2 separate regions of the Homo sapiens genome follow, and region 1 is linked to region 2. The links come from fine-mapping of genetic effects on plasma protein levels. A gene starts in region 2. The other region holds a variant in brackets. All regions are shown on one strand. Distances are from middle to middle. Region 1 overlaps KYNU (kynureninase). Region 2 holds the start of KYNU (kynureninase).

Region 1 (11,240 bases), 160 kb before region 2:
ATGAAAACTGTGGTTTGAAAAATATTCAGCTTAGAAGATAATACTTTGCAGAGTTTCAACTACTTGTATTTTTTTTCTTACTGACAAAATGAACACAAAGCTTGAAAAGCTAGATAAGTTTAAACAGGAAAAATAAGTTTGGTGTGATGTTTTCAATTGTCATATTTTTCTCTTAAATTCTTAAAACTGTCTCTCTAGGAAATTTGAAAGGAAACGTATAGTACATTTCTTTGTTGAGTCTTCTGACTCGCCATGTATTTTAATTGAATGCTCTAACTTTGTATTTTGAAGCCATTTATTTCATTATGAATTCAGAATACTGAAAGGGACTAAATATTGTCTACCTATCGCTACACATAAATATGAACCCTCAAAATATAATATACGTATTGTTTAAATTTAAGTATTTTGGAAAGTGAGGAGACTTCCAAAATAATCTTGTCCAAACATCTTACTTTAAAAAATAAGGCAAATACATCCAAAGGGAGTTGTTGCTTGTGTAAGGTCACACTTCGTGTCCATTGAGGGAGAGAGTACTTGCCACCAGGTTCCTGGCCTCAGGCTTCATCCCTTGATCCACAATATTTTAAGAACTATTGTATAAATGATTCAGATAAAAAAATATAAACAAAAGGACAGTTTGAAACTGATTACAATGTGCTATTTTTTATATCAATCAACCATATACACATGTATTTATTAAAAAAAGCCATATTAATATCTTTTTAAAAAGTCATTGCATTAAAAATCTAAGGTCTTATTTATATGTGATTGATTCTTAAGTATAGAATCTCTCCTCCAGTTCGTATTTGACTGTGTTGAATATTTCTTAAAAGTAGAGACAACAAAGAGGCAGTTTGATTCATGCATTTACTTCTTTCGTTTATTGAAACTTCAACCACCTATCTCCTAAAATGGAATAAACTGGTTTAAAAAGATAAGGTGGCTGAGTGCAGTGGTTCACGTCTGTCATCCCAACTGCTTAGGAGTATAAAAAGTAAAGTAGAGGTTCCTCTTCAAAGACTTTCCTTCCCGTCTAATTAGGAATAAATAGTAACTTCTCTTAGAAGCAAAATTTATTCAAAGACCTGTGCTAACATTCTTAAATATCTGCTAGCTGTAATAAATAAATCAATATACTTTATGTTTTTAGCTCCCACAATTTAGCCTAAATATTTGCCCTGGCATGCTTATACTGGTCCAAGCAGCATTAGGTCACAGCCTGTTCCTCTTCCTTATTTAAAAGTGTTTTTACCTTTCTTAGCATTCCACAAGTTACTTCCTCCTTCCTTTGTTACCCTCTACCTTTACGTCTTTTAAAAAGTTCTAAGTTACTAGCCAATCGGGACAAATACAGAATGGGAGGTCCCATTCCAGCCATTGGAACTGGACACAGCAGTAGGGTGGACACGTCAGGTTATAAATGACCCTGTCTCCTTTGTTCGGTGTACTCTCATGGCAAAACTGCTGGCGAGTGTATCCTCTCTGCAGGAAGTAAAAATGGCCTTACTAAATAAATTAAATTTGCGTTCAAGTGCTATTTCTTTATAGCACTGAAAAACAAACATTTCAAACAGGAGACTGAGGCAGGAGAATCGCTTGAGGCCAGGAGTTCCAGATTAACGTGGACAACATAGCCAGACCTCATCTCTAAAAAAATTTAAAAATAAGCTGAGCACAGTGGCATGCCCTGTAGTCTTAGCTACTCAGGAGGACCACTTGCAGCCAGTAGTTCAAGATCAGCCTGGGCAACATGGCAAAATCCTGTCTCTATAAAAAAATACAAAAATTAGTCGGGCATGGTGGTGCACTCTTGTAGTCCCAGCTGCTGTGGAGGCTGAGGTGGGAAGATCAACTGAGTCCAGGAGGCAGAGGTTGCAGTGAGCTGAGATCCCATCACTGCACTCTAGGAGTGACAGAAGGGGACCCTGTCTCAAAAATAAAGAAATAAAATAAATAAATAATAATAATCAGCCAAGTGTGGTGGTGCAGTCCTGCAGTCCCAGTTACCTGGAAGGTGGGGGCAGGAGGATCACTTGAACCCCAGGAGTTTGAGGCCATGCTAAGCCATGATCGTACTATTGCATTCCAGTCTGAACAACAGAGCAAGACCTCATCTCTAAATATAAATAAATAAAACTTAAAGGAAGGTAAGTATTAATAGAAGCATAGTTAATTCACTGATGTTTACTCACATGAGAAACCCATAAATGTCTAGAAAATAAGACATTTTAACAGAGAAAGGGAAGCAATTCAATGCATTAGTTTGTAATTCAAAAATTTTGCAATTTACAGTAGGAAAGAATTTTGAAAAAACACTTTTACCAACATAAGGCTTGATTAACTAAAGATAATTTTGGTTAGAACATAGTCTCAGCAGTGAAATGAGCAGAAAGAGGCTCAAGGGAAATATGTAAGTGATTAGAAGATCCAGAGAAATGCATATCATTCTTCTTGTGGCTTTTAGGGTTTTAAGTTTAGATATTGACTGGGTAACATAGTAAGACTTTATCTGTACAAAAAACTACAAAAATTAGCCTGGTGTAGCGGTGCACACCTGTAGTCCCAGCTACTCAGGAGGCTGAGGTTTAAGTTTAGATATTAAAAAGAAAAAATAAATCAGTTCTCAGATTATAACTGAAAATAAAAACTTTGTCTAGGTGACTCTAATACAGTGTGGTAGGAAAACAGTGGCTGGAAGAATAGGAATGTGCTTCCTTTCCCACAAGAGAAGGGTGAATACTACTAGAAAAGCCAGTCCACTGCAGAAAGTATGCCAAAGTGAAGGCGTCTAAAAGGAAATTTCCAGGTACGTCTGAGAAGTTATTTGCAAAGATATGGGCACCAGAGGAAATTACTTTAGGTACAAGCTCTTCCTAAGGTATGTCCTGGTGCTTCTGATATTGTCACACATCTCGCTGATACAAACTTGCAAGGAATGCAGAAACTTTATTTTGTTTTAAAATGTTTAAACAAAATATTTATCTGAATGGATACTATAAAAACAACTCAAATATCATTATCTGATTTACTAAGCAGATTTTTACTCAAAAAACTGTCAAAAATATATATCACTGGCTGAAAAATCTCGTTACTGTGTCTATTTTCCAAGTTAAAGAAAAATTCTGCCATGAAGTGAAAACAACACAAGCTCCATCTAGTGGTTAAACTGAGTAGGTGCGCTTTAAATTGAGACAGAATGAAATGAGGTGATGATCACTATCCAGTGGTGAAATTTAATAAAAACAGAGGAACTTGATGCTGCCATCCAGTGGCCAGAATGAGAAACTGCTGTAAGTGTTCACAGAATTATGCAATTTTAGATTAGAAGGAATTTTGAATCTTCATCCTGTCACTCATTTGATGCTGAAATCCTCTATAAGTTTTTGCCAAAATATCATAAACTACATGATTTTAGAAGGAGACATGAAAAAATTTCAAATCCTTGTTTGAATAGTTCTATGTAAAACTTCTATTAGAAATATATATGCACATTTACTTAAAATATATTTTACTTAAATATAGGTATACAAAATATACAATTACTTTATATATTTACATTATTTATGTAAATATTTATACATTTACATTATATATGAATTTTATACTATATAACCTATATATTTTTACTTGGCCACATTTAGTCTAACACTAAATAATAGTATCTAAGGAATCACAATTTCATTTTCTTGTTATGTATATTTATCATTTCAGGGTGAGACTAAATTTACCTAAATAAAAATATAAATTAATTTAAAGGAAAATATTGAGTCAGTGATAGTGGAGACTATAAATGGACATAATGGCATAGAAGTCCCAATTTAAAAAAATCATAAAACCACCCTACCTTATGAGACAACCTTATTTAATCTTTGGTTTACTCTGATTATTCTTTTTTCCTTCAAGTAAGTCTTTCCTAGCTTTGTCACATGGTACTTGGTCAGTTCATTCACCTACAATGAACTAGAAAAAGTACAGTCCCTAGTAATCACATCAGGCACACAATATTTTCTCAATAAATTTATGTTGAATGAGCGAATTTATGAAGAACTAAATATTGCATGCTTATTTGGTATAAAGAGAGGCCAAGAGAAGGTTAAATAACTTATTCATGTTTAAACAGATTCTAAGTGGAGTAAAAAACGTATCTCCCCAAAAGAGTTCCATTTAATATTTACTATGTGCCAACAATGTGCCAAGCATTGTGCTGGGGGCTGGTGACATGAATGAAGGGAGACCCTCACCACATCATCACTGTCCTAAAGGGGAATGCTGCCTTCTGTCCCTTGTTCATGCACAGTGCACATGTATCATCTTGCTGTGTAGCAGAGAAAGTACTATGAATTGTCACAAACAGATCAAGAAAAAACGCAAAGATGTGGGAAGGTTGAAACACACATCACTTACCTCTAAACTAGCATGCAAGGAACAGACCAACAAAATGGGAGGATTTGAAATTCGGAATCCACAGACCCCAGGGATTAACTGCAGTTCTGAGAAATTA[A/G]TATCATGTCATTATCATAGAAGGTAACTTTAAAAGTGTCCATAAAGATACTAGAGTACTGGAGAGTAAAAGAGCAAGACTTAAACTTTTCTTCCTAAGTAGGATTTCTGAGATATTTAAGATAAGCTCCATGGAACTAAAATATCGACGTTATTTCCCGTTTACCAGCAGTTCCCACCTCCCTTGTCCCCAACTTCTTAGCAGAACACCAGAAATCTTAGACCCAAGGTAAAAATGACCTCTTCTGGAAGTTTTTCTGGATCTCATTCTCTGCCTTCCTATTCCCAAGCCAGGATTCCTTATTCTGCTCAACATTTGCTATTCTATTATGAAACCATGTCAATGAGAGAGAGCATCAGCTTTTAGTGGCATGTAATTGTAATGTCTCCCAAAGGCAGAAATATGAATGAAATGACCTATGAAGCTGACTTTTAGCTCTAGGATTGTTAGGTCAAGTGGTTTCTCTTACAGAACACACACAGACACACACACACACACACACACACACACACAATAGAGGGAGCTTTAAAAAAAAGATCTGCCTAAGTATATAAAAAAGGTAAATTAATAACAGATGCTCTACTAATTAGAATTAAGCAGATTGAACTGTAGCAAGTTAAATTCAATAGGGTTAAGATAGCTAGTCAGAGATAAGTTAACACTATGACTGACTAAAAGAATGTTAAAACTTGATGACTTTTTTATAGTTATCAAATCCAGGATTAAGCAAACTATGGTGATATGGTTTGGCTCTGAGTCCCCACCCAAATCTCATCTTGAATTGTAATCCCCATATGTCGAGGGTGGGACCTGATGGGAGGTGAATGGATCATGGGGGCAGTTTCCTGCATGCCGTTCTCATGATAGTGAAGGAGTTCTCACAAGATCTGATGGTTTTAAAAACAGCAGTTTTTTTTGTTTTGTTTTTTTTTTTTGTTTTTGTTTTTGAGATGGAGTCTCGCTCTGTTGCCCAGGCTGGAATGCAGTGGCGCGATCTTGGCTCACTGAAACCTCCGCCTCACGGGTTCACGCCATTCTCCTGCCTCAGCTTTCCGAGTAGCTGGGACTACGGGTGCCTGTCACCACGCCCAGCTAATTTTTTTGTATTTTTAGTAGAGATGGGGTTTCACAGTGTTAGCCAGGGTGGTCTCGATCTCCTGACCTCGTGATCCGCCCGCCTTGGCCTCCCAAAGTGCTGGGATTACAGGCGTGAGCCACCACGCCCGGCCAAAAACAGCAGTTTTTATGCACTCTCTCTCTTTCTCTCTCTCTCTCACCTCCCATCACCTCATATGTGCCTTGCTTTCCCTTTGCCTTCTGACATGATTGTAAGTTTCCTGAGACTTCCCCAGCCATGTGAAACTGTGAGTCAATTAAAATTCTTTCCTTTTCAAATTACTGAGTCTCAGGTGGTATCTTTATAGCAGTGTGAAAACAGACTAATATATGGCCATATGGCCTGTGGGCCAAATTTGACCCACTAGTTTTGTTTTTGTTTTTGAGACAGAGTATCACTCTGTTACCCAGGCCTGAGTGCAGTGGCTCAATCATGGCTCACTGCAGCCTTGACCTCCCCGGGCTCAGGTGATCTTCCCGCCTCAGGCTCCCAAGTAGCTGGGACTACAGATGCATACCACCACTCCTGGCTAATTTCTGTAGTTTTTATAGAGACAAGGTCTCACTATGTCACCCAGGCTGGTCTCAAACTCCTGTGATCAATTGATCCATCTGCCTTGCCTCCCAAAGTGCTGGGATTACAGGCGTGAGTCTTCGTGCCAGGCCCTGCTTTTTAAAATACAGTTTTATGAAAACATAGCCACAATCTTTCACTTATGTATCACCTATGGCTGCTTTACCACCACAATGACGGAATTGAGTATTTGCCACAGAGACTGTATAGCCTAGAAAGCTTAAAATATTTCCTATCTGGCCTTTCACAGAAAAAGTTTGCTACCCCTGATCAAATTCAATTCCTTTATTTCCAAATAAGAAAACCCATCTCAAAGAATTTAAATAACTGGTATAATAACAGATCTAATTATTTTAGCAGCCAAGGTAAAATACAGGTATCCTGACTTGACTGGAATATCCCATTTTGCAATTTGGTTGCTACAAATCTGCATACCAATGGTCCCTGACTTAACAATGGTTTGACTTAAAATTGTTCAATTTTACAGTGATACAAAAGCAGTACATCTTAAGTAGAAGCCATACTTCGACTACCCATACGCCCATTGTGTTTTCCACTTTTAGTATAGTATTCAATAAATCATATAATATATTCAATGCTTTATTATAAAATAGGATTTGTGTTAGATGGTTTTGCCCAACTCTAGGCTATGTAAGTGTTTTGAATGTGTTTTAAGGTAGGCTAGGCTAAGCTATGATGTTCTATAGATTAGGTGTATTAAATGCATTTTTTACTTATGATATTTTCAGCTTATGATGGGCTTATCAGGAAATAACCCCATTGTAAGTCAAAGAGCACCTATATATATAAAATATTATCTCAGGCCAGCTTGGACAACATAGCAAGACCTCATCTCCACTAAATAATAATAATAATAATCAGCATCATCATCATCATCCAGTCATGGTGGTGCACACCTCTAGTCCCAGCTACTTAGGAAGCTAAGGCGAGAAGATTGCTTGAGCCAGGAATATCAAGGCTGAACTGAGCCTGATCGCACCACTGTACTCCGGCCTAGGTGACAGAACAAGACCTTGTTTCAAAAACAAAAAAATAAAGTCAATAAAAAATGAAAACAAATTTAAAACAGTATCTCAGGGTTTAAAGCAATCTGAAGGATCAAGTTTATGTTGAACTCTCAAAGCACGTATGATCTTTCTGCATCCCATGTGATTGAGAAATGAGGTCATGCAGGAAAAGGAAGCTCTGCATGGTAGAGTTTCACTTCTATCTGCTGGGGTTAACTGCTCACAGGAATTGCTACACTCTTTGGTACATGGCAAAAGCCACAAAAGGAAAATAGGAAAAAAGAGGAGTGAAAATGAGTATTTATTAAGGTACTGCTGTGTCCTACTTGGCTTATTGTTTTGAGCTTGACTAACCCTAAAACCAAATCTTTAAATAGATTTTATTATTCACATTAGATAAGTGGGAAAGAAAAAACAATGACACAAGATGATATAACTTGTGCAGGATCAAAAAACTATTAAGCAGCAAAGTGTGATTAACACCCAGGTCTTTCTGGATCTGACTCCAAGCCCCAAATTTCCTCCTGTCCTCCATGCCCAGTGTTTCAGGCACTCTATGTTGATGGCACCTGACCAAGCCACATGACCCTTACCTTGGACTTCATTTTCTTTTATCTCCCTGCTAAGGGATAGACTCAAAATCATGCTAAAATCTATAAACTCTTAGTCTTACACTCTGGAAATGTCATTTCTTATTTGAGAATTCTCAGTGACATTTTTGAAGTGCACTCTCCCTGGGGCATATACATTACACATAATACAAAGACAGATGAACATTGAAATAAAGTTAAAATAAAAATGGCATTAGGTAAAATAAATACACTTACTGTTATCCATCTTAAATCTGGTGCTGAGTTCATGGCCAAACCATCCCACTAATCTAAAATATAAATAAAAACATTAGGTTTTTGGGGGTTTTTTTGGATGGAGTCTTGCTCTGCTGCCTAGGCTGGAGTGCAGTGGCGTGATCTCAGCTCACTGCCACCTCTGCCTCTTGGGTTCAAGCGATTCTTGTGCCTTAGCCTCTCAAGTAGCTGAGACTACAAGCATGCACCACCATGCCCGGCTAGTTTTTGTCTTTTTAGTAGAGATAGGGTTTCACCATGTTGGCCAGGCTGGTCTTGAGTTCCTGAGCTCAAGTGATTCATCAGCCTTGGCTTCCCAAACTGCTGGGATTACAGGTATGAGCCACTGTGACTGGACATGATATTTTGATCTATAAAAATAAACACTACTAATTTAGAAATCTGGGGCCTGCATTATAAAGCCATTTGTAATATAAGTCATCAAATACTTCAGCAGATAAAATACTATCTGGTATCATATGGTAATTAATATTTATAATTAAAAGAATGAGGATAAAAATCTATCCATCTCTATTATTATTTTTGTGTGAAATGTCAACTTAAGAGTTATAGTTAATGACCGGTTTTTATTTAATATAAAATGAACAAAAATATTAAGCAGTTTTTATTTTAAAATTAAGCTAAAAGCTCAAAAAGGTCAAACAATTAATACAATATTTTCACAATAGAATCTCTAAAGAGAAATGTACCCAAAAAGCCCATACAATTGTTGAAAGTTTTAAAAATACTTTTAAAGGAAATTGGTTGCTTTCATATTGTTTTTGTTTTGTTTTGTTTTGTTTTGTTTTGTTTGAGACAGAGTTTTGCTCTTGTTGCCCAGGCTGGAGTGCAATGGAGCAATCTTGGCTCACCACAACCTCCGCCTTCCGGGTTCAAGTAATTCTCCTGCTTCAGCCTCTCAAGTAGCTGGGGTTGCAGGCATGTGCCACCACGCCCGGCTAACTTTTTTGTATTTTTAGTAGAGACGGGGTTTCACCATGTTGGTCAGGCTGGTCTTGAACTCCCGACCTCAGGTGATCAGCCCGCCTCAGCCTCCCAAAGTGCTGGGATTACAGGCCTGAGCCACCACGCCTGGCCTCATATTGTTAATAAGAATGTTGGCCAGGCACTGTGGCTCACACCTGTAATCCCAGCACTTTGGGAGGCCAAGGCGGGTGGATCATGAGGTCAGGAGTTTGAGACCAGCCTGACCAACATGGTGAAACACCGTCTCTACTAAAAATACAAAAATTAGACGGGCGTGGTGGCATACACCTGTAGTCCCAGCTACCAGGAGGCTGAGGCAGGAGAATCGCTTGAACCCAGAGGGGGAGGTTGCAGTGAGCCGAGATGGAGCCACTGCACTCCAACCTGGGTGACAGAGTGAGACTCCATCTCAAAAAAAAAAAAAAAAAAAAGAATGTAAAATAAGCCAGACATAAAATACAAAATATATAGGGAAAATCACATACGTGTGTGTATATATTACATGAAAAAGACTATAAAACAATTTAGAGAAAAATATAAAAAATTTAGAAAGAGAAATATCATGTTGCTTCTGATCAATTATCCCTAAATATTTTAGTTTTAGTGATGTCCAAATAAAAATTCCAAGACACTATTTTTTGGGAGATGACAAAATGTTTTAAAATTTATATAGAATAGAAAAGTATAGTGAGGAATATGCTATATTATCTTGTAATAGTATCTTATATGCTTTATATGATAATATTGCATATTATAAAATGCAGTACATAAATGAGACTAATTCTAGTAAAGAAACATCAGTGAGACAAATGAGATATGACGGTAAATACAGAAACAGTCCTCAGATCATGTCACAATTATCACCTCTTAATTATGACATTTCCAAAATGCAAAAATGAAAAAATTATATTTACATACTCATGATTTTCAAAACAGAAATTTCTAAGTATAAAACAGAAGAAAATTCAAAGGAACATACCAACAGATTTATAAACATTTAAAATTCTGTATTAAAAAGACAGACAAAATTGCAAGGCAAACCAGAGATGGGGAAGAGAAGTGATATTTGTCCCATATGAAAGAGTTTTCACTAAGAGTTTTTACATAGAAAAAGGACAATGTACCAAGAGCAACCCAGCTACAGAGCAGGGACAGGCAGTTTATAAAGGAGAAATGTCTGTGCCCCATGAATTCAGGAGAAGCAAACAAAACAAACAAAAACACCTCAATCTCACTAATGTTTCACACTATAATGTAAAGATGAGACCATATTTTATATATCAAATATACAAAATGACTTAAAATTATGCATATTTTCATTAAAGATTCAAAGAAAAGGAAATCAACCACTGTTGAATAATGATAATAAATAAGTAATAAAATCTTTCTAGAGGACAATTTAAGAAGATATATGGGAAATATGCATTGTTTTCTGTCCCAGAAATTTTACTCCTTCCAATTTATCTAAATTGGATTACACTATTTGGATTACACTATTTGAAGTACACCAAGATTTGTGTATTAGTGATAGGGAACAGCAGGCACAGAAAATCTAGGCAGAAAAGAGTAGGTCCCCAGGAATTCCTACCCTCAAGCTGAAAAGCCTGAAACCACAGCCCAAAGTGAGAACTTCTATCCCTGTTTTCCCGCTCAAATGTTGCTTTTTCCTAAACCACTCATGGCCCCACCCCGCCCCATCCTGTGCCTATATTAATCCCAGACTCAGCCAGTAGACAGGATACAGCTGGGCATCGGAGAGAAGTGGCTTGACTTCAGAGGGACAGCTTGGTGGCGTAACTTCGTAACTTCGAGAAGAGTCTGGCTGTCACACTGGCTCTTCACCCTGGCTGGTGGAAGGCAGCCGCCTCATGTGAAAAGTCAGAGGCCCCACTGAGCTATTAACACTAATGCGGACTGCGGACTGCGGACTGCGGACAGCAGAGCTAAAAGAGCACTGTAACGTGCCCTCTGGGGCTCTGAGAGTCGCAGGCACCCCCGGTTGGAGTCTGCTGTGGGGCCTGCATGGAGTTCAATCCTGCCGGTTCTAAAGTGTGGGGTCAGTTCCTACACCTGCTCACCTGTGCGCTCCCTCCCATGAGGGGTGGAACGCTGCAGGTCCGAGTGAGTGGGGTTGGGTCCTACCAGCGCCAAGTGGCCAGCCGATTCCAGCACTCATTCATTCCAGC
Region 2 (11,240 bases):
GGTGCAGCAAACTGACATGGCACATATATACATATATAACAAACCTACACGTTGTGCACATGTACCCTAGAACTTAAAGTATAATTAAAAAAAAAAAGTTGAAAAGGGAGACCGATTAAGGATAACACAGTAGTTCAGGAGAGAAACGGTGGTGAATTAAATTTGGTGATGAGGGCAAAGGTAGAGAGAAGAGTGTGGATTTATGATGTAGTTTGGAGAAAAAGTAGATAGGACTGGTGGATAGATTATTTCTAGTGAGGACAGGAAAGGAGCTTTCTTCTAGCTTTGGGATATGGGCAAATATGTGAAATATGATGAAATAAAAATACCTGGGGAAGAAAAATTTTGAGGAGGGAAATTGGAATTCAGTTTAGCAGGCTGGTTGTGGTGGTTCACACCTGTTACCCCAGCACTGGGAGGCCGAGGCAGGGGATTGCTTGAAGCCAGGAGTTTGAGACCAGTCTGGACAACGTAGCAAGATGTCATCTCTACAAAAAAAAAAAAAAAAAAAGAAAAAAGAAAAGAAAAGCCAGGTGTGCTGGCACTGGCATGCACCTGTGGTCCTAGCTACCGAGGAGGATGGGGTAGGAGACCAGCAGTCTGAGGTTGCAGTGAGCTAATTGTGCCACTGCACTCCATCCTGGGCAACAGAGCATGACTGTTTAAAAAAAAATTATATTTAGGATATATTAAGTTTCAAATAAGTATTGAACATGCAGGTAGAAATGTCAAGCTGGTCATTGGATATTTGAGTGTATAACTTAGGGGAATATTGGATCACAAGATATGTTTAATATTTCTCAATTCAGACTGTACTTAATGTCTAGAACTTCTGGGGGCCCAAACTCACACAGAACTAAAGCTCTAGAATTCAATTCAATCTCCATTCTTCTGCCTCCCTTCACCTTTTACCTTAACTAACACACACAGTGTTTGGCAATAAAGAGTTGCATATCTGAGTGTTAGATAATGCCAGTAAAACAGACATTCTTCTTACACTCTCGATTTTCATTCTTGTACTTTTTGGGCTTCTTCTTTTCTCAACTGTCGATGGTCTCCACTGATAAGCCATTCTTTATATTCCTAGACAAAGATACCAAGGTTCACCATTGCATGTTTTTTACTTTGATATCAGTTGTGACTCCTAACTGCTTCAATCCATGGTTCTGTACAAAAGTGTAGGATTTCAACATTGATGGATGGTGCTTTCAATATCTGACCATAAGTATTATTTGTCCTCCACATGAAATTTTCTATTTCTGTGATTTTTCTCATGCCATTTCCTTTGCCTAAAATGTTTTGCTCCCCTTCAACTTGTTTGGATTCTAGCCAACCTTCAAAGACCTAATGCTCCAATGCTTTTTTCAAGAGGCCTGTTAGGATGTCTCAGGCAAAAGTAGCCCGTCTTCCTCTGAACACCAATAACAATTAAGAGCACACTTATGTACTTTACTTACGATAATAATACATTCTGCCAGGTACTATATTTATTTGGACATATGTATGGATAGGAAAGATCAAAAACATTTGCTATGCCTGAAACTTGATTCTAAATGGCTCCCCACACATAGCTTTCTGATGAAGGAAACTGCATTTTGAAGAGAGATCACTGTGTCTCTACCGCTTGGCATTATCAATTGCCTGGTCATAGTTTATTAGACCTCTGTTGGACACTTACCCACTAAAGACAATGTAGTTTCATCAAAGATCTGTGAATTATTTGCTATAAAAGCTCTAACCAAACAGTGATGATGTTTAGCTGAGTACATAATCAAATTCTTTCAGGAATCTGAGCTGTGGGATGTGCTTATTCATTCAGTTAGATACAGGAGCTAGAATTTAAAATAATCATAGATAGAAGCTATGAAATGCTAGGGTCTAGGAGGAATACTGTCATAGAATGACTCATTTTTCAAAGTAAAACAGAACCACTGATTGTTAAAGCATGAAAAGCATGAAGTGATTCCAGCAGCAAGTAAGAGTCACTTAGTTACACAATGGCAAGGGATTGAACAGCTATGTCTCCTGAAAAGGTGACAAGACAAGCCCATCTTGCAAGTCACTGAATCCTTCATGCAACATGCTATGTGCAAGTCTCCAGGGGACCCATCTTCTTGGCTATTCCTAAAATTCCATGAGATGTTTTTCTGCCTTACTATCAGATTAGTCTTACTACAAACATATTACTGATGGTAGCTGGACTGAGTTGCTGTTCTACCCTACTGAACTGAACTCTACCTGGGGGCCTGAATCATGTTTAATTTATCTTTATAGACATCTCATTTAGACAGAGTACCCCTGCCGCCAAAGTGGCAGTTCGAGAGAATAAACAAAATTGGTTGATGAATTATTTGACATAATGACATATTACTAGAAGGGCACCCTCTCTCATTCTGACCATATGAGAAAGACTTAGACAAACATTTCTAATGAAATTCAGAATCAAGAGAGCTTGCCTTATATTTGAGACTTTCTTTGGGAGGTCAGCCCTTTGAGTTGATTGGAGGTGACTTTAAACTCTAAGTGGGGTTACTTAAATAAAGAGATTAGTTTGTTACCAACAGATTCTGAATAAAATTCAACTTTCCTTATTTTAAAAATGATACTCATTAGCGTCATTCTATCTGTATCTTATTTAATGCTTGTAATAATCCTGAGGCATCAGAATCCTTTTCCTCTATATTGAGATGAAAACCTGGCACAGACAGAGTAGAAACCAGTGGACTAAAAGGATAGCAGAGTGCACAGTAGGGTACTTAACCATGCCTGAGATGCTGAGTCCATTGTGCTGGTCTTTGGCAAAGCCCATGAATGGAATGCACAGAGCTCAATTCCTCCTCGAAGCCTTGAACCTCTCACTTTATTTTTCCTTGCCTGTTGCTTCCTGATGTGTGTGTGTACGTGTGTGTATTTCTTCAGCTCATTCCCTTTTTCTTTGGCTTCTTTTTTCAGTCCTACACTTAAGCTGCAAAGGACCACAAGCTACGTATGAATTGATTTACCTTTTTAATCCATCCTTCCCAGTCCAGTTTCAGCCAGGCAAAAGTTAAAGTGGCTGGTTCCGCTCCTGGGCCTGTCACATCTGGGGTACCTTGAGATACCTGATGGGCATAGTCTTCCAAATGACTGCACCCTGCCCTACTCCACCACTTGCACAACTTCGCATGGTCTCAAATATAGTCTTTAGTTCCCAGAATAGCATAGTGCACTCACTCTAAGGATGCAATTTATTCACTCATACTAATTGCTGCTTAATTCTGCATTCACCCCAGCAGCTAAGACAATTAGTGTTCACAAGCCATAATGTTATGCCATGTTTAGTTTGCAAATAAAGTGACATGCTCATATTCTGAAAGGAAGAACTTAAATCCAAACTTTTAAAAACTTCAACTTTTACATATTTTACAAATTTTCAAATGTTACATATTTAGTGTTAATTTTATCAAGACGGGGGACATACATACCATATGGTCTCAGACAAATCACCTAACTGCTCTGTATGTCAATGTTATTTAAAGTTAAATTTTACTTTCTTCAAAGGATTATGGTTAAGCTCAAATGACATTAGGTCCTTTATAAAAAGATAAAAGATAGTTTGTAATATTTTTTTAAATTATCAATACCTTCTGATGGACAGCATCAATGTGCCTTCGATTTAGGTTTGGAAATTGTGCTTTCACAATTTTATTTAGACAGCTACAACTTTAAAGTAAAAAGCTTGTATAATAATTAAAAACTGATTGATTTTAACGAAATCACAGAATTCAGAATCTCCTAGTCACCCACTGATTTAGGGCTAAATAGTTAAATAAATGACTGAGTGTCTGGTAGTTAATCTTTACACAGTTTCACATTCATGCCTGAAATAAGCAAATTGTACATAGGAGTTCAAAGTTTAGAACCTGACTTAAAAATATGTTGAGAAAGCGTGTAGTTTTTCATTAGTAAAGAAAAAAGGAAAAACAATATGCATATTGAGCAAGATTCTTTAAGCATATCATTGAGAAATGGGTAACATTACTCTGCTACGAGTGTATATTTCATATCTAGGATATGAATTACTTGCTGAACACGTTAAGAAAATCAATACATTTGCTTCAGTGTTACTACTAAATAACACCCCACTGGCCTCAAAATAAAAGCAGAAAGGAAAAAAGAAAATCTAGTATATTTTTAAAAAGTGTATCAACTTTCTTTTCTTAGGTTTCATAAAATGAAAGGGGAAGAAACTCTGTTCAAGAGTAGGCATTTTCACTTCTCTAAATAAATATTTAATATGACTACTAGCAGCATAAGACAATTAAAGTTACCAGAAAACAGAGGACTTAAAATCTGTTTAAGAATATCTTTCCCTCGTCTGGAGTTTGACCTAATCTTACCGCTTAAACTCAAATAAGAACAGGACTAACTTTGGTTTGTCAAATGTAACCATATTCAGTGCACTATGTTCATCAGTTCTTTTCTATTACATTAGTAAAGATCTTTTCATTTAACCCATTTCTAAAGGTGGGGCCTTTAGGAAGGTCATACCATTTTTATTTACAAAAAGAATATATATAAAAAAAGAAGAGAGTAGCAGAAAAAAACCTCTAAAACACTATGACAAGGATTCTAGCTGACAGAAGTTTCATTTGGAAAAAACATGGAGTAAACATTAGGGTAGAGAGTTTTTATCAGCGCCTCAAGCTTACCAGCTAGGATCCCAATGGAGTGTTTGGCTCCCAGAATCTCTCCAAGAACCTCTCAAGAATTCCTTGAAAATGTACAGGCCAGATCTTAGGGTGAGAAATTCAAAGAACTGCTCAGACTCCACCCAGTGGAGAATTTATAAATATTTTACTTTACTTCCTCTCCCCTAACCAATCGGTAATCTCCAGCCACTGTCAGAAATTTAAGCAACATGTGCTCCTGCCCACCATTTCAAATGCCAGAGCCTCCAGTGAGGGCTTCTTTCCAGAGGCAACTTTGCTCTTTAAACTCAGGTAAACACACACTTGTCCTTTAACTATATAAATCTCTGACCCCTGAACTGATGAGTTGGTCTTAGAGCTAAATTCCAAATTTTGCCTTTCTTCTTCACTTTGAGCTCTGGATTTTTGAGACAATACCCTCCTTCAAATACACTGAGGATTTTCAGTCTGATGGTTGAATCTATGACATTTAATGGGTAAACTTTTTAGTCAAAAGTTTAAAATAGGCTCTCAATTCCAGAATACACTCTATTGCCTAATATGTGAGTTTTCAAAAACTCCTAGGTAATAAATCTGGACAGTTAACAAGACAATGAAGGAAGAAAGATCTGAAGATTCAAGTGGAAACTAGCCTGGCAAACTTCATTAATGCAAATTATTCATTTAAGTCTGTGAATTGTCTTTTGTTCTAGTCTGACTACCTCTTTAGGCTTATTCCTGAGCTTGGGTCTTTTGATGAATATCCTTGTAGTTATAAAAACTAAGAGCAAAGACTTTCGATATTAGGACTAGGGATGAAGAATGTGCTTGAATAATTGAATGACTTATGCACACCTATGCTTTATTTAGTAACCCACAACAAATCAAGTAAAGTGTCATTTAATCATTTCTATCAAGTGTTCATTGTATAACCCTGAGCAATTCACTTAACCCTTGTGGAGGCTCAGTCTCCTATTTATCAAATGAACTTAATAATACCTTCCTCCCAAGATTACTGAAACGATAAAACCATGCAGGTTGAAGGCCATAGATACCATGACACTCAAGTCAAAAGTGACATATTGTCTTTTTTTTAATCTTAAGTAACCAGACAAAAAGTACTACTCTCCAGTTTCCAAGAGAGGGAGATAAAGTGCATGAAATTGCTTTAATACGAGTAATTGACCAGTGAAAATAAAATATATTTCACTTCATTGATCCTATCCTTACAATAATCCTATAAAGTAAGTAGACTACCAATTGATTAACTTAGAATAGTAAAAGTTTGAATCCATTCAGGAAATTTCAGAAGGTGTACTTTTTTTGCATCTATTCTGTGTATGCCTCATGCTGTAAAAACTTTGGAAGATTACCAGGCTCTAATATATGGGGAGCGAACCAGAGGGCGGATCTGTGTCATTTTTGTGTCACTCTTTTAAAGACTGACTATAGATTTAGAGAGCTAGATATGGACATTAAGGTTTTGTTTTCACAAGATCTTGCTTCTTCTAAAATCTTGTAATAATATGATTAAAAATTTCATCAAAATATTATCTTAAAAACTACTGTTTAACTTGTCACCTTTAAAGAACTTGCTTGGAGGTCTAAGCTATACTTCTATTTCTTATGTTTTATAAATTTCTTTCTTTCTTTAAATTTGTTACATTTGAGGAATAAAAATAAAATCCCAAGCCCCTAGATTAACTGAACGGACACGCTCTTGGCCAAGGGGATCCCAGAGTAAACTTGAAAACTAAGTTTTTGGCCATGACAGGATAGGAAGTGGAACACATACCCGCTCCATCACTAACTATGATTAGGCTTTCTGCCCTATGGCTAAAAAGAAACCAGTCATTTCAAAAGATTACACCAATGACATCAACCATCACCTGGTGTTATCCCTCTCTTTTGTGGTTTGGAACAAAAAGAAAATACTGATCATGGAATGTTTCTGGCTAGTCTATGGAGAATGTGCAGTAAAGGTTTTCATGTCCTCTGCTTCACATTGGGCTGAAAACTGCCCCCTCAGATTGTATTAATGCTGTCATTTTTTGAACACGGATCCCATGGAGAAGCATGAAACTCCATTGTGCATGTGCACATTTCTCCTTTCACAAATATTCATGGCTTCCCCTATAGCTTATTGAATATATATATTCAGCTACCCTGCTCAACATAAATTTCTGTTTCCTTTGCTCCTCCCTCAAAATGTCTGTTTCCAGCTTCTGATTAGAGGCTATACTTTTCAGAGGTCAGAATGATCACCCTGCAGGCTGCAATCCTTTATGTGAAATGAAGCTCTCCTTTCCAAATGTATGAACCTGTCATTCTTCAGTTGACACTTTCATTCATTCAAGAAAAGTATTAAGCATATTCTCTGTACCAAGCACAAAGTGAAATGCCAGGGATGTAATGGGGAGCAAAACTTGTATAATAACATAGGCCGCTAAATACAGAAGGGAATTATGAGAGAACGAGTCATGCGGGGAGGGGTGAAAGCAAGACCCGCTACAGGGCCAGCAGTCAAGGTTAAACAGAGAACACTGTGAGATACCATTCCTTCCTTTTGGAAACAGGAAGAAAAAAAGTGTTGCCAGAATAAGCTGTTGTACAATTCCGAGTTGTCTATTAATTTCCAGGTATGGCATCCTGCTTATAAAATGATATGTTTCCGAGAGGAAAAGACTAATTTTATCCTCCTCAGAGCTCTACCTATGTATGGAGCTAAATAAATATCTACTGAATTGGTTAATTTGTTTTTTTTTAATTAAGATCTAGTTTATTTTCTAAAAATTGATTATTGGAAATATGGGAAAGTTTTGTCCTCTCAAAAGGTAATCTTGAACCATGAACTTTATTCTTATTCTTCAGGGCATTTTCGCCATAGTTAGGCCAGTATCTAGCATTTAGTAGACTAAAATGGGTGCTTGCTGGATCATTAACTAAATTAAATTCAGATCAGCAAACTCTTTATGTAAGAATCCAAGGCTGCACTACCAGGCTGATCATAACACTCTAATGCTGGGTGCTCAGTATGTGAAATGAGTAATGAGATTAAAGACAGAGACAAGTTAGGAAAGAACTAATAAAAAAAACTGCAGTCTCAAACTTGGGTAAACAGAAAATTTCACAATACGCTATTTTTCTTAATTAAATAAAAACGCAGAGCTCACATGTGACTTCTTAGGAGGAAAATTTACTCTGAGTCATTATTGGAACTCTCCTTTCTTCTTTACACAGGGTGTTGGGAAGTTCCCAGATGGGAGGGGCAGATTAGCTTCCTTCTCTCTGCCCTCCTGCCTCTCCTTTCCCCTCACCATATCCCTGGGGCCTTGCACACCCAATCACTCTTTCCAAACTTCCCCTTGGGGATAACCAATATAACATAACAAAAACTTTCTCAAATGCCAGTCATGAGATTTGCCTTAAGCAATTTCTGCCAAGGAACCTACAGCATCTTCTCTATATGGGTAGGGGAAAATATAAAAAACAGAGCACACACAAAATTATCTCTCCTCTCTTCTTCCCTCTCCCCTTATCTGTCCTTCCTTCCCCTCTCCTTCCTTTCCTGCTGCCCCCTCCTCTTTCCCTCTTCTTGCCTTCTCTCCTCTTTCTCTAATGCCCTCCTCTTGCCTTCTCTTCCTCTCTCTCTCTCTCTCCTTTTCTTTTTCCCTTTTTCTCTCTTCCCTCCACTGCACTCTCATTTCCTCACCCATACTCTCCTTTCTTCTCCCTCTCCCTCCTACAACAGGGAAGGCAAAGCAAATTAATATGCTAATAAATCACTAGGCTATGTTTAGACAATCTACTTTTTCCTTCCTGTGAGATACATAGTCTGGTTATTAGAAAAATTTCTCAGTAATGGGCGGGGACTTTCCTACCCTCTCTATATGTTGTATTTTCAGTTTTTCAGAGGAAAATGCAAGGGCTCGTTATAAGCAAATGACATTTTGCCAGTTGGTGATTAAAATTTATTTAGAATCTAAAATTCCTATAACCCATTCCCTTTTTCCTAGATCAGAACTTTTCCCTCACTGTTAAACTCACAAAGGTATAGAAGGCAATCTAAATCATGTGCGGTAGCAGAAGAACTTTAGTAGTTTTCTGTTATATGTGTTTGCAGGTCAATTTGCTCAATTGTCTGATTGTTTACATGAGGAATTTCTGAGTTTCCTGTAAAACATGAAAAACCCAAAGTGACTTGAGTCATATTGACATCATTGACCACATAACAACATCATTGATGTCATGATGACTCTGGAAAACGGGAACAGGCATTACAAAATCTCCATTTAAAGACAAAGCTTTCATATACCAGGGTTTCTTTCTATAGTACAAGGTACGATGTACATGCCCTCTTTTACCATAACAACTTACAACAGAAAATTTTTTTTCTTAATATTAAAAATGACTATCAACAGGGATAGTGTAGAGCTGATGTTTGGAGATGTCACTTCAAGATCCTCTTCTGGGATTTGTCCTTTTTCCTATGTTTGTCTGGCAAAGTATTTTCTAGTGTCACTAATAAACGGTGTAAAATTTCCCATTTTGGAAGTGTCCAGTATGGGTCCACCATTTTGCCAGTCGTTTGAAACTTCTCATAGCTTACAGTATGACAGACACCAAAATATAGCAAATTCCTAAATTGTCTTAACCCCACATCGCAGGCAGGGGAAAAGAGTTCACTAGACTAGGATCTGAAGAATGGTGCAATATGTCCCCAAAAGCCAAAGAAAAGTGCTTCTGAGGGGCTCTGAATCTAGACAAGGAAGATGCAGAGTATTAGATAAGAATAAGAGCTAGTAAGAAACAGAAAAGGACAAATGCATTTGAAATTTTAACTTGTCTTCATGTAAGAAAATAGTGTCCTCTATAGAAATATTTTTGTAATTTAGAGGAAAAATATAATTAGTTAGCAAAATACAAATTTTCAAAACTGACCAAATAAGAGAAACACTTGAAGAAAACAATTCCTTTAGAGGAGATTAAAAATGCATTTAAAGAGTTATTGTATAAAAGGAAACATCCCCACTGCCAGGAAGTACAGAAAAAAAAATAGAAGGCAACATTACGTTTGAAAAGTTTTGCATATGAATTCTAGCACAGCATTAAAGATTAGGAGAACCTCATGTTATTCAAACTATTCCAGATCATACAAAAAGATGAGCTTTCCTGTTCATTTTCTGAAATTATGCTAATTTCAGTTCCAAAGCTTGATTAAGAATAGGAGTGTAAGCTTCAAAATACTGTTTCAATTAAAAAAAAAGTTGATAAGGAATTGTATCACATCTATTTTCCTCAGAGCTAATTATTATTATTTATTTCAGATAAACAGGTTTTATTTTCACCTTGAAAGAGTCTGTTTTTTTGTTTGTTTGTTTGTTTTTGAGACTGAGTCTCGCTCTGTCACCCAGGCTGCAGTGCAGTGGCGTAATCTCGGCTCACTGCAAGCTCCGCCTCCCGGGTTCACGCCATTCTCTCCCCTCAGCCTCCTGAGCAGCTGGGACTACAGGCGCCCACCACCATGCCTGTCTAATTTTGTTTTTGTATTTTTAGTAGAGACAGGGTTTCACTGTGTTAGCCAGGATGGTCTCGATCTCCTGACCTCGTGATCAGCCCGCCTTGGCCTCCCAAAGTGGAAAGATTCTATACTTAAATTGTTTTGTAAAAAGATTATACAAAGTTTAAATAATCCTGCAAACATACAAAGTAAACAACCAAGTATATGTGCAATAGTTTTGAGCAATATCACTCATAATTACATAACAGTAATCATTCGTTTTATTCAGGATACACTAATTCAGTCTAAAATAAATTACAGCTTTTCCCTGCTGTATTGTTTTACCATATTTTGTTGTTTTACATGGTGTTGAACTGTATTTTCCTTTTCAGCTTATTTTTAATTTAAAAAATGTTTATTCTTTTATATAGATTTTATTCTATTCCATTGTGCAATTTTAGGTTCATAGCAAAATTGGGCAGAAAGTACAGTGAGATCCCTGTATCCCCTTACCCTCAACTTATTTTTTTTCTTTCTTTTTCTTTTTGAGACAGGGACTCATTCTGCTGCCCAGGCTAGAATGCAGTGGTGTAATCATGGCTCATTGCAACCTCCACCTCCTGGGCTCGAGTGATCCTCCCATCTGAACCTCCCCAACTAGCTGGAACCACTGGTGCGCACTACCACATCCGGCTAATTTTTGCATTTTTTGTAGAGACAGGTTTTCACCACGTTGCCCAGGCTAATCTCAAACTCCTGAACTCAAGCGATCTGCCCACCTCGGCCACCCAAAGTGCCAGGATTACAGGTATGAGACACTGTGTGGTCCCCTCAACTTATTTTTTTAACATTTTTTTTTCCAATGAAGTTGCTTGTCTCTTTCACTTTTGTCCAATTTGTTTCTTATATTTTCTTTTTATTATTATTTTAATATTGATTCATTTTTTAACTCTTTTTTATTCCTTTTATTTCTTTCCCTAGTTTATTTCATAACTCACTTTTATGCTTATTTCTATTTTACTGATTTCAGTATTAATTATTTTAAATTGCTTTCTTTTGCACAGTTTTAG

The links. PIP is the chance, under the fine-mapping model, that this variant and not a neighbour inherited with it causes the effect. The UK Biobank Pharma Proteomics Project read protein levels with antibody pairs (Olink). The fine-mapping took linkage between variants from a reference panel, not from the people measured, so its PIPs are less certain.
Region 1: its variant is fine-mapped to the plasma level of the KYNU protein (UK Biobank, PIP above 0.99).

Annotation. Positions count from the first base shown.
Region 1 is chr2:143,026,489-143,037,728 of GRCh38, reverse strand. It overlaps KYNU (kynureninase), which reads right to left. Exons shown (of 14, transcript NM_003937.3): 11 at 8,050-8,102; 12 at 4,408-4,493. Among named protein-coding and RNA genes, the nearest start is that of ARHGAP15, 97 kb to the left of the region's middle. The variant A/G (reference allele first, on the strand shown) is at 4,505.
Region 2 is chr2:142,871,188-142,882,427 of GRCh38, reverse strand. KYNU (kynureninase) reads right to left here and starts at 4,764. Exons shown (of 14, transcript NM_003937.3): 1 at 4,692-4,764.